Homo sapiens: one gene and its partners. The protein of the gene in region 3 interacts with the protein of the main gene of each other region in a biochemical or structural test. Each region holds a gene or a part of one and is shown on either strand. Other genes may lie near its edges.

The links. Proteins that work in one complex are often made in the same cells at the same time.
Region 1: of the proteins of CSNK1A1 (region 3) and RIPK1, one has a biochemical effect on the other in vitro, tested with the Homo sapiens proteins (one study listed by IntAct).
Region 2: of the proteins of CSNK1A1 (region 3) and CUL4B, one has a biochemical effect on the other in vitro, tested with the Homo sapiens proteins (one study listed by BioGRID).
Region 4: of the proteins of CSNK1A1 (region 3) and PRKD2, one has a biochemical effect on the other in vitro, tested with the Homo sapiens proteins (one study listed by IntAct).

Annotation. Positions count from the first base shown.
Region 1 is NC_000006.12:3,099,494-3,102,993, reverse strand, and holds part of RIPK1 (receptor-interacting serine/threonine-protein kinase 1), read right to left. Parts: intron 1-3,500. UniProt on the Homo sapiens protein: Serine-threonine kinase which is a key regulator of TNF-mediated apoptosis, necroptosis and inflammatory pathways.
Region 2 is NC_000023.11:120,533,463-120,536,962, forward strand, and holds part of CUL4B (cullin-4B), read right to left. Parts: coding exon 3,465-3,500; intron 2,482-3,464; coding exon 2,368-2,481; intron 1,125-2,367; coding exon 1,019-1,124; intron 1-1,018.
Region 3 is NC_000005.10:149,495,961-149,499,439, reverse strand, and holds part of CSNK1A1 (casein kinase I isoform alpha), read left to right. Parts: intron 1-2,579; coding exon 2,580-2,587; 3' UTR 2,588-3,479.
Region 4 is NC_000019.10:46,676,466-46,679,114, forward strand, and holds part of PRKD2 (serine/threonine-protein kinase D2), read right to left. Parts: intron 2,199-2,649; coding exon 1,931-2,198; intron 992-1,930; exon of another isoform or gene 675-991; intron 1-674.

The sequences.
Region 1 (3,500 bases), on a different chromosome or scaffold from region 3:
GGTGGAGAAATTAGAATCCTTGTGCATTGCTGGTGGGGAATATAAAATGGTGTAGCTACCATGTAAAACAATTTTAACAGTACTTAAAAGTTAAACATGGCCGGGCATGGGAGCTCACGCCTGTAATCCCAGCACTTTGGGACCTCAGATCACCTGAGGTTAGGAGTTTGAGACCAGCCTGGACAACATGGTGAAACCACCCCATCTCTACTAAAAATACAAAAAACTAGCCGGGCGTGGTGGTGTATGCCTGTAATCCCAGCTACTCGGGAAGGTGAGGCAGGAGAATCGCTTGAACCCGGGAGGCGGAGGTTGCAGTGAGCCGAGATGGTGCCACTGCATTCCAGCCTGGGCAACAGAGGGAGACTCTGTCTCAGAAAAACAAAAAGTTATACATAGAATTACCATATGATCTAGCAATTCCACACCCGGATATATATACCCCAAAGAACTGAAGGCAGGAACTCAAAATATGGTGCAGGTGTAGTATCCCTTATCCAAAATGCTTGGGATTAGAAGTGTTTTGGATTTTGGATTGTTTCCAATTTGGGAATATTTGCATGTACAGAATGACAGATCGTGGGGAGAGGACCTAAGTCTAAACATGAAGTTTATTTGTGTTTCATATGCACCTTATACACATAGCCTGAAGGTCACTTTATACCATATTTTAATAATTTTGTGCATGAAACAAAGTTTGAGGATACTGAACTATCAGAAAGCAGAGGTGTCAGGTGTGGTATTTTCCACTTGTGGCATCATGCTGGCACTCAAAACGTTTCAGATTTTGGAGGATTTTGAATTTTGGATTTTGGGTTTAGGGATGTTCAACCTGTATATCCATATGATGGAATGTTATTCAGCCATAAAAGGGAATGAAATTCTGATACATGCTATGAAACAGATGAACCTTGAAAACATTATGCTAAGTGAAATATGCCAGACTCCAAAGGAAATACATTGTGTGATCCTTTTGCTAGGAGCTACCTAGAATTCAGAGACAGAAAACAGAATAGAAGCTACCAGGGGCTGGGAGAGGGAGGAATGGGGAGTTACCGTTTAGCAGGTACAGAGTTTCAGTTTGGGATGATAAAAAAGTTCTAGATATAGATAGTGGTAATGGCCGCACAACATTATGAATGTACTTAATGCCACTGGATTGTTCACTTAAAAATGGTTAAAATAGAGAATTTTATGTTAAGTATATTTTGCCACAGTAAAAAACTTTTTCCTTATAGGAGCAATAATCCTCATTATAGAAAACATAGAAAATTATATATTCTTAAAACCTATCCATAGTTTTGCCCTACACCCAAAGATAAAATGTTAACACTTTGGTATTTTTCCTTCAAGTTTTTTTTTTCCTAGTTTTATTTGTATTTTGCTGTTAACGATTGTCTGCTATATAAATAAGTGGTCAAAAATACTAGCTAAATGAATACATGCATGATCTAGGGGAGAATGACAGAGGGTATTAATTATGTTCACACTTTGTAGCATTCTATATATTGTTTTTGTCTCTTTGCATGTTTATTTTTAGAGATCAAATCTGCCTCTGTCGCCCAGGCAGGAGTGCAGTGGCATGGTCATAGCTCACTGAAACCTCCAACTCCTGGGCTCAAGCAATCCTCCCAGCTTGTCCTCCCAAAGAGCTGGGATTACAGGCATGAGCCACCTCACCCAGCTGTATGTTTATTGTTTTTAATTAACATGAAAAGGGTTTTTTGTTGTTTTTTTTCTTGAGACAGAGTCTCACTGTGTCCTCCAGGCTAGAGTGCAGGCTCAACCTCCAGGCTCAAGAGAGCCTGCCACCTCAGCCTCCTGTGTAGCTGGGACAACAGGCATGCGCCACCACGCTTGGCTAATTTTTGTGTTTTTTGTAGAGATCGGTTTTTGCCATGTTGCTGGTTTTGAACTGGCCTCAAGAAATCCACCCACCTCAGCCTCCCAAAGTGCTGAGATTACAGGCACGAGCCACCCTGCTTAGCCTAATATGAAAAGTATTTTTGTTATTTTAATTTTATCAAATTGATTTTCTTTTTATAGTTATTTTTATTACACAAATATGTTAAGTACAAAGTCCTTTTGAAAGATTCAAACAGGCCAGACATGGTGGCTCACGCCTGTAATCCCAGCACTCTAGGAGGCCGAGGCGAGCAGATCGCTTGAGGTCAGGAGTTCAAGACCAGCCTGGCCAACATGGTGAAACCCCATCTCTACTAAAAGTACAAAAAAATTAGCTGGGTGTGGTGGTACACGCCTGTAATCCCAGCTACTCGGGAGGCTGAGGCACGAGAATCACTTGAACCCGGGAGGTGGAGGTTGTAGTGAGCCCAGATTGTGTCACTGCACTCCAGCCTGGGTGACAGAGTAAGACCGTCTCAAAAAGAAAACCAAAAAAACCCCCAAAGATTCAAACAATGCAGAATCACATAGAATAACATCCAAACATTCCTTCAGCACCTACTCTTCCATTCTCTAGAGGTAAGCCTTATCCAGAGTGTGATGCATATCACTCTTATTCTCTCTCTAGGAATTTGCACACACATTCCAGAAATATATATATATTTGAGACACAGTTTCACTCTGTTGCCCAGGATGGAGTGTAGTGGCACAATCTTGGCTCACTGCAACCTCCACCTCCCGGGTTCAAGCAATTCTCATGCCTCAGCCTCCTGAGTAGCTGGGATTATGGACATGCACCACCATACCTGGCCAGTTTTTTTTGTATTATTAGTAGAGACGGGGTTTTACCATGTTGGCCAGCTGGTCTCCAACTCCTCACCTCAAGTGATCTGTACAACTCCGCCTCCCATAGTGCTGGAATTACAGGCATGAGCCACTGCACCAGGCCAAAATATATATATCTTTAACATTAAAAGGACCACACTGTAAGTATTGTTTTGTGACTTATTTTTTTCACTAACAGCTAATCTTGAAGATCTTTCTATATCATTACATGTTAGTTTCCACCTCTTTCTTTTAAATGGCTATTAGTATTCTGTAGTTTAGATGAATCATAATTTAGGGCAGTTACTTATGGACATTTGAGTTGTTTCTAATTTTTCACTCTTATAAACTAAGGTGCAAAGAATGGAAACTACATCTTTGAGTGCACGTGAGCAGTATAGATTACTGAGAGTAGAACTGCAGCCAAACTTATGGGCTTGTGGAGTTTGTTGGGTGCCTCACCTTCTAATAAACTTCGCCACTCTTACCAACACTGCAGAAGACTGCTTGTTATTCTGCATTTTCACCAACACACTGTATCACTAATCTTTCAAAAATTTCAATCTAATGGATGAAAAATTGTAACGGGTTCATTTTGCCTTTCTCTGTTGGCGAGGCCAAATATCTTTTCTGAAGTATGTTGTTCAGTTTCTTTTTTGAATTGTCTATGTTCTTTGTCTATTATTTTTCTTTTATTTTGGTTTTTTTGTTTGTTTTTTTGAGACGGAGTCTCACTTTGTCACCCAGGCTGGAGTGCAGTGGCTCCATCT
Region 2 (3,500 bases), on a different chromosome or scaffold from region 3:
ATTAAGCTCTTCATGATTCTTCATGATTCTATGCTACAATTAAGCTCTTCATGGGCCTATACTGTGCCCATTCCTACCTCCCAACCTCATCTCAAAATATTTCCCCTTGCTGTATATGCCTTCTCCCTGACCAAAACTTGAAGGCCCAGCTCAAATGCCACTTGCTTCATGACAGCTTTCCCAATTGTGCCAGTCCACGGTGATCTCTTGCTTTGTTGCACTCTTACCACACTTATAGTCAGTACCACAAGCCAGTACTTATGGGTTTTGACATTATTTCAAGTGTCATTTCCCCCTTTCCCTATGGTTATATAAAGAGTTCTGGCCAGGCGCGGTGGCTCACACCTGTAATCCCAGCACTTTGGTAGGCCGAGGCAGGCGGATCACGAGGTCAGGAGTTCGAGACCAGCCTGGCCAACATGGTGAAACCCCGTCTCTACTAAAAATACAAACATTAGCCAGGTGTGGTGGCAGGCGCCTGTAATCCCAGCTACTCGGGAGGCAGAGGCAGGAGAATTGCTTGAACACAGGAGGCAGAGGTTGCAGTGAGCCGAGATCGCGCCACTGCACTCCAGCCTGGGTGACAGAGCAAGATTCCGTCTTGAGGGGAAAAAAAAAGAGTTCTGGCTGGCTGCAGGGGCTCATGCCTGTAATTGCAGTACTTAGGGAGGCTGAGGCAGGAAGACCCCTTGAGCCCAGGAGTTTGAGACCAGGCTAAGCAACATAGTGAGACCCTGTCTCTACAAAAAAAAATTTTAAAAATTAGCCAGGCACGGTGGCATGCACTTGTAGTCCCATCTGCTTGGCAGGCTGAGGCAGGAGAATCACTTGAGCCTGAGCCATGATTGTACCACTGGACCCCAGCCTGGGTGACAGAGTGAGACCCTGTCTCATTAAAAAAAAAGAAAAAAAAAACTCAAAACAGTTCTGAGGCAAGGAATTATTCCTATAAATATGTCCCCCAGACCTCTTAACATAGTGGTGTGCACATAGTGAACAATTAATGTTTGCTACAAACCTATTCCAGTTGCCTGCTTGATCTCTTCTAAACTGAACTCCTCTCCCTCATTAAACATTAGCAGCACCAGTGTTTGAAAAAGAGAGACCTGGAGTTCCTTTTTACCCTGTTGAAGAAATAAAAGTGTTTAGTCATCACTTTTTTAAAAACACATGAAAAATTAATCATCTCTTATAGGAAAAGCATTTTTCAATTAGTGGATTTAGAAACATGATTAGCATTATCCAGCAAAGCCACTTGACGTGGTAATACAGTATTTCAGTGTGAGGTTTAGGTGTGACCCTACCTAAAATAGGGGGAAGGATTAGCTGACCTTTTAACAGTTTTTTTTTAAGCCTTATAAATAGAATACAGTAATGAAAATTAATCAGCCTTATGTGTCATTCTAGATATTCATCACAAGCAGCAAGAAATCACTATTTCAAATGTATTTTTGATTTGTTTGGCTCAGATTAGTCATGAAAAGCTAAAGTTTTTTGAGATTAGATATTGCACACTGTTTCCCTTAACTCCCACTCTATTCGTAGCTCCCAGCAACAAGATTTCTGTCAAGAAGTGGCAGTGTTAGACTAAGTGTAGTTGCTCATGCCTGTAATCCCAGCACTTTAGGAAGCGGAGGCAGGGGGATAGCTTGAGCCCATGAGTTTGAGGTTACAGTGAACTATGATTGTGCCACTGTACTCCTGCCTGGGTGACAGAGTGGGACCCTATCTCTAAAAATAAACAAATAAATAAAAATAGGAAGTGGCAGTGTACAGTTTTCATCCACAGGTGAGGAAAGGGTAGGGGGAAAGTTCACTGCTTTTCATTTTGCAGAAGGGCCAAATCAATCGTGGAAAGACCACACACCTAAAATTACTTAAAAATACATAAAGCTATGACAAACTATCACTGTCATCATGCGGATATCTAGGATACAATTATAAAACAACAGCTTAAACTGGCCAGATGCGGTGGTTCACACCTGTAATCCCAGCACTTTAGGAGGCCGAGGCGCGTGGATCACAAGGTCAAGAGACAGAGACCATCCTGGCCAACATGGTGAAACCCCGTCTCCACTAAAAATACAAAAAAAATTAGCTGGGTATGGTGGCGCACGCCTGTAGTCCCAGCCACTCGGGAGGCTGAGGCAGGAGAATCACCTGAACCCAGGAGGCAGAGGTTGCGGTGAGCCAAGATAGCGCCACTGCACTCCACTCTGGTGACAGAGTGAGACTCTGTCTCAAAAAAAAAAAAAAAAAAAAAAAAGAAGAAAACAAAAAACAATAGCCTAAACTTTCAGTTAAGAAGGATGACCTAAACATTAAAGATAAAGATGAAAACTAAAAGTTTTGGGAACATCCACTTACCTCTTTAAATTCTGCTTTTAACACACAGTGTCCTAGGGTTGACTGCCACTGAAGTTTCCTGCCACTATGTTTGCCTAGGTAAAATGTCTTGAAAATCTCCTGAAGTTTTACCATCTAAAGTAAATAAAATAAGGCTTTATTTAAGCTCTGTATCCAATACCACATTTACCATTTTTATACTTACCTCATGTGATATAGTTTCTGGAAAATTTTAAGACTATATCCAGTAGGTCCACCAATCACTTTGATGAAAAACAATGATCTCCCAACCACCAAATCAAATGGGATTTATTAGGATTTATACCTTTTGCTCTCTCTGAACATTTAATCATCCCCTCTTTTGAAACATTCACCTGCAGCAGCTTTTGTGCCTCTGCACTATGCTGCTTCCTTTATTTCACTGTTGCTTCTGCATTGGTTTCCTTCACAGGTTCCTCTTTCTACCATCTGCCAAATGTGAGCCTTTTCTAAAGTTCTGCCTCTGCTGTTTTTTCTTCCTCTTTGAGAGAAATCTACTCCCTGGGCCTTCATAATCATCTCCATGGAGGATTCTCAATATCTATCTGTCTAGCCTTAATCCCTTTTATGGGCTTCAGTCCTGGACTAGACAGTTTACCAGGAGTCAGGATAGATTTAATCAAGGACCCATCATTTAGCAATCCCACCTATGGGTGAAATATGTGCAAGAATTCTTAATAGCTAGGTAGAGTGAGGGGTATAACCTGGGAAGATGGAAGAAGAGCCAGGGAAATTGACCCTGAACCCAGAAATTTGGCATTATTAGCTATGTGCTTAACTGGACTTCTAAGTACAAAAGTAAAACATTAAAGCAGTTGGTATTTGGTGTTGGTGCGCTTACTGACATACACTTTTAAAAGTATCCATGCCAAGCCTGGTGACTTACACCTGTAATCCCAGCACTTCGGAAGGCTGAGGCGGGGGGGATCACTTGAGCCCAAGAGTTCAAGACCAGCCTGAGCAATACAGCGAGACCCTGGGTCTCTATTTTTTTCTAAGTATCTATTTTTAAATGACAAGCAAAATGGAAATGCTATGATTTCTATGCCTATAACTCAGTTCTAAACAGTAACTCTTACCTCTGGTGGTAAATGAACTTCCATAGGCACATATGT
Region 3 (3,479 bases):
GGATAGAATATCCTTGTTAGTTATATAAAAATAAACTTTTTTTTGCTTTTTGCAGATTTGAAATTTAATTAAGCTATTAACTTCTTAATCATCACATCCTCCAACTCTGTTTTAACTCCCCCCTCCCCCTCCCCTTTTTTTTTAAGGAATAAAGGGATTCATTCCTCATTTTAACTGATGTTACAGTGAAGATGGGTTCTTGAACTCTTGGAAGCCTGGATGAGCCACCTAATCTGCAAGATAAAAACCAAAGACCAATGCGTATTGGGGAAAAGAATGCTTAGTACTGCAAGACTGTTGAATACCTGTTGAATATTCCTATTGAGGTTTTTTCCTAAACATACTTCAGTAACATCTTAGGACAATTCACTGGAGAAATGTTGATCCCTGGCTGGAATGTCATACCATTGACCCATTTGAAGAGTTAAAGCTGGATTTGACTGCTCTATTCTACCAGGAATATTGTTAGGGTAGCCTTTTACCAGTTTCTAAACAATTGTAATCATTTATTGACTCAGCAATTCCTCAGATAACAGGTCAAAAGATGTACAGATACATTCTGAAGTTTTCTTGCTATTAAAGGCACAAGAGTTTCCTTGTATTTTGACTGACAATGTAGCATGTTTCCATTTTAGTTTGTTAGTGATGGTGGTTTTCCCTTTGAAAGCCATTTGGTATATTCACCATAACAATTAGTTTAATATGATTACATAAGAAAACTATGATAAAACCCAGCAATTTTAGTAGTTGTGAAAATACGTTTTTTAAATCATGTTTAAGAAGAATTGCAAGACTTGAAACCAAATCCTGATGGGGGAATTCTGTTTAATCCTGTTTAATCTGTTTAATTTCTGTTTAATCCTTAGTTTCTTAACCTGCATAGCTTATCCTGTATTGTACTTTTTTTCTTTTTTAAACTCCCAAACAAGAAGCTTGAAACTTTTCCTGTATTTTAAAATTGAAATTTGGTCACAGGGTATAGTCAGATTTTTATTAAGGTTTGGTTTGACAACCTTTAAAAGAAAGGTTTACCTCGCTAATACTTCTTAATAACATGCATCAAATGATATTCCCTATGGTGAAGTATATTCTCAAAGTTATGTTATCTTTCATTTTTGGCATTTGGTGCTTATGGACTTAGTACCCAGGCAACAAAGATCTATTATGCACCTACTCTCTTGTATGTTCGCTATTATTTCCCAAAAAAAAAAAGGGGCATATATGCATAAGAAATAAATATTAGAATTATTTTGTTTCTCCCACAAAGCCCATGGGAGATGGCCCAACAAATGTTTAAAAAGTAAAAGAAGCTGGGCACGGTGGCTCCCACCTGTAACCCCCACACTTTGGGAGGCCATGGCGGGTGGATCACGAGGTCAGGAGTTTGAGACCAGCCTGGCCAACACAGTGAAACTGTGTCTCTACTATAAATACAAAAATTAGCCAGGCATGGTGGCAGGCACCTATAGTCCCAGCTACTCAGGAGGCTGAGGCAGGAGAATCGCTTGAACCCAGGAGGCAGAGGTTGCGGTGAGCCAAGATCATGCCACTGCCCTCCAGCCTGGGTGACAGAGCGAGACTGTCTCCAAAAAAAAAGAAAAAAGAACTAAAAGAAAAGGAGCAGTTTATGATTGAAGAAAACATGACCTGGGCTGAAGAAGTGAGGATTGATTGGAGTGGGCTAGAATGAGCTATAGTTTCTAGCTCATTTGTAAGGAGGTAGACAAAGGAGCATTGGTGCCTCAGAGTGGGTGTCTGGTGAGAGGAAAAACGGTGCTTAAGAGATTTTCAGGCTATTGCTGTGGGACAGGCATATTTTCTCCCTTTGCCTTTAGCTGTAGATAAAGTGTGGTTATGACCTGAGGCTTCTTGTATTCAAACTTGGCCTAGGGCCTATGTAGAGGCCCTAGGGTCTACTTGTGGTGGAGGAGGGAAGTATTTGTAGAATGTGTAGGCTTGAGAAGTAAATAAAGCCAAAAAAGCATCACTTGCTTACATTTTTAAATGAGTCACAAAACAATCTTTCTAATGCGGCCGGTAAAGAAGTTTTAAAGGTCTAAGGTTTCTCTACAGAAATTACATGCTTCTCAGGTCTTTGTTTAGTAAAATAATACAGATAATTATGCTTTGAATGCATTTATTATTAAAGCTAACCGTTTTAATTTGTGTCAGAAATAATTTGTGCCTATGGTAGGATTAAAATTGTATTCTTTAGTTAAAGCAAAGCAATCTGTTTTTCATTGATTTGATAAATATGTGAATGCCTAATATGTTCTGCATATGTAAAAATGCAGAAACATGCTCATTTGAATTACTAATAATTATTTTAGTATGCTGAGAGGCTTTGAATTCACTGTACCACTCCTTCCTAGAGTCATTCAAAACAGAAAAAATTAGTTTTAAGTATAGATTCATGTTTTTCTGTTTTAAAAAGTTGAGCTAATACTTTTCACAAGAGACGAAATAACATGAGCCACTATAATTATTGGCTCAGTTCCACCCAATTTCCATATTTTGGGTGTAATTTAAAATTTTTGACTTGGAATTTTAACTTTTTTTTTGTTTTGATTTTTTACCAGGTTTCTAAGCATGAATTGAGGAACAGAAGAAGCAGAGCAGATGATCGGAGCAGCATTTGTTTCTCCCCAAATCTAGAAATTTTAGTTCATATGTACACTAGCCAGTGGTTGTGGACAACCATTTACTTGGTGTAAAGAACTTAATTTCAGTATAAACTGACTCTGGGCAGCATTGGTGATGCTGTATCCTGAGTTGTAGCCTCTGTAATTGTGAATATTAACTGAGATAGTGAAACATGGTGTCCGGTTTTCTATTGCATTTTTTCAAGTGGAAAAGTTAACTAAATGGTTGACACACAAAAATTGGTGGAGAAATTGTGCATATGCCAATTTTTTGTTAAAACCTTTTGTTTTGAACTATACTGCTTTGAGATCTCATTTCAGAAGAACGGCATGAACAGTCTTCAGCCACAGTTGTGATGGTTGTTAAATGCTCACAATTGTGCATTCTTAGGGTTTTTCCATCCCTGGGGTTTGCAAGTTGTTCACTTAAAACATTCTTAAAATGGTTGGCTTCTTGTCTGCAAGCCAGCTGATATGGTAGCAACCAAAGATTCCAGTGTTTGAGCATATGAAAGACTCTGCCTGCTTAATTGTGCTAGAAATAACAGCATCTAAAGTGAAGACTTAAGAAAAACTTAGTGACTACTAGATTATCCTTAGGACTCTGCATTAACTCTATAATGTTCTTGGTATTAAAAAAAAAGCATATTTGTCACAGAAATTTAGTTAACATCTTACAACTGAACATGTATGTATGTTGCTTAGATAAATGTAATCACTGTAAACATCTATATGATCTGGGATTTTGTTTTTATTTTGAAATGGGAGCTTTTTTGTTTACAAGTTCATTAAAAACTAAAAACTGTTTCTGTAAGGAAATGAGATTTTTTTTAAACA
Region 4 (2,649 bases), on a different chromosome or scaffold from region 3:
TTAGTCACCATTGCCTGCAGAAGGCTCAGAGATAGGCCTGTTCATTGTGAAAAAGAGGACTAGCGAATGTCAAGCTTCAAGACAAGCCAGCACTCATCCGAGGCTCTCTCCTTGATGGGAAGCCATGAAGGACAAGGCTTCACTGTATGAACCCATCCGAGGAGAGGCCTGGTGCACACAGGCACCCTGCTCCCGTCAACACCCACAGGATTCTGTGATCCTCACACAGGTGCAACCACACTTAAATTCACTTGTGCACACTCGATGCACTTTTACTGAGGGACTTCTGAGTGGGTCTCAAAAGACAATGCTGGCGGGGTGTGATGGCTTATGCCTGCAATCCCAGCACTTTGGGAGGCTGAAGCGGGCAAATAACTTGAGGTCAGGAGTTCAAGACCAGCCTGGCTAACATGGCGAAACCCTGTCTCTACTAAAAATATAAAACATGAGCCAGGCATGGTGCTGTGTGCCTGTAATCCCAGTTACTCGGGAGGCTGAGGCAGGAGAATCCCTTGAACCCAAGAGGTGGAGGTTGCAGTGAGCCGAGATCACGCCACTGCACTCCAGCGTGGGTGAAAGAGCGAGACCCCACCTCAAAAAAAAAAAAAAAGCCAGTGTTGAGCACCCCCAATATTACTCCAGGACTCAAGTCAATCCACATTCTCACTGCTTAGGGCCCATGCTCTTAGACCACCACCAAGACCTTGTCTTGTCCTGCACCGAGCAACCTCCGTGTCACCCTGCTCCACCTGCTCCATGAAGCCGCACCCTCCAGAGAGGACCCTTCCCCTTTCCACCCTTCGCGGACCACTCAATGAGCTACCCTGCACCTGACCCCTTCTGTCCAAGTCATCACAGTATTCCCAGAGCTGGAACAGTCAATGCCTGGCACATCGTGGGCACTCAACATGTTGAATCAATGGTTACAAATACATGAATGTACTTGTTGAATAAATGGTTATAAATAAATGAATGAATGATCCCCCCCCTTCCCATACTCCATCTGTCTTCCTGAGCTCCCTGGCTCCAACACAGGTCCCTTGTTCTCCTGGCTTCTGACACACCCCAGTATCTTAGCCCTGCCTCTGGCCCTCTAAACATGCCATCCCACACCCAGCCTCAAAGCTCCAGGCCTTAGGACTTAACTTTTCCAAGCAGGGAAAGTTACAGACCCATTCCCAAGTAGGTTCAAGTCACCAGGCCCGGTGCCACTTCATCAGGCCCAGCCACAACACCAAAGCCCCAGAATGCAGAGTGCAATGTCTGCCTCAGTCCTGGCTCCCTTCTCCTCCCCACTCCCATCCACTCCCAGCTTCCAGGACTCAGGGTCAGCCCTGTTCCTGGACCTCTTCGGAAACCCTCCACGGCCACGTCCCTAGACTGGCTCCCTTGGTCACTGAACCGACCCCAGGCTTCAGGCCCATCTTCACCCAAGTCACGGCCCCAGTACACAGCAAAGTAGCCATGCCCTTGTTTCTCAACCCTACCCACCGGTGCCTCCTTTTTGCAAGGCTGACCCTTTTGGGGTCGTAAACCCAAAGGCTCCAGGTCCCAGCCAATGCCTTGGGAGGCTCAGCCCCTTCTCCTGGTCACCGCAGCCCTTTGGTACCCTCAAGTCCAGTCCCTTTCCTGGTCCCACCCTAGACAAGCCAAGTCTCACTCAGCCCCCCTAAGGTTCCAAGTGTCCTCAGCGCTTCTGGGGCACTTGGTTTCCAGCCCAAGTAACCTAGTCTAGGCCTGAGTCCCAGCCCATCTTTTACAGGACGGCTCCTCCTGTAGCCACATCCCTCCAGTAGGCCCGCCCCAGCACTGGGCTCCACCCCCAAGGTGCCAGGCTGTTTCCGGGTCCACCCCCCTCTCATGGCTCCGCCCACTTCTCCAGCCCCACCCCACAACCCACCCGCCCATGGGGTAGGCGGGCCCCAGGCACCTCCAGCTGAGATGTGGCTCCAGGGGCTGGCCGGGTACATGAAGGCGGCGTTCTGGATCTGGTCATTGATGTCCTCATCCTCGTTGAAAGGGAAGGTGCCGCTGAGGCTGACGTACATGATCACGCCCACTGACCACATGTCCAGCGAGCGGTTGTAGCCCTGGTTGAGCAGCACCTCGGGTGCCAGGTAGGCCGGCGTGCCCACCACTGAGCGGCGGAACGACTTCTCGCCGATGATGCGAGCAAAGCCAAAGTCACACAGCTTCACCTGCAGAGGGCAAGGGATGGAGGCTCCACCAGGTGATGGAGCCGCACCCACCCCAGCATCCCCACCACACCACCCTCCATGGTATTCCAGAGAAAGCTGGATGCTGGTTTGAATCCAGGCTCCTTGGCTCACTAGCTGAGCAACCCTGGGCAGGTGACTTCCCCCCTCTGTGCCTCAGTTTCCCCATCTATAGGAAGAAGAGCAGAAGAGCACCTATCTCAGAGGACTGCCATGATGGTTAGTGAATTAAACCATCCAAAGCCCACAGGACAATATTTGGCATTCAGTTGGTGCACAATAAATGCTAGCTGCTGCTATACCTCTGCCACCTCCAATGGGTCGCTGTTTCCTCTTTTGAATAATGCAGATTTTTTTTAATAGCCTCAAAATATACATGATTGGGGCGTGGTGGCTCATGCCTGCAATCTCAGCACTTTGGGAGGCCAAGGAA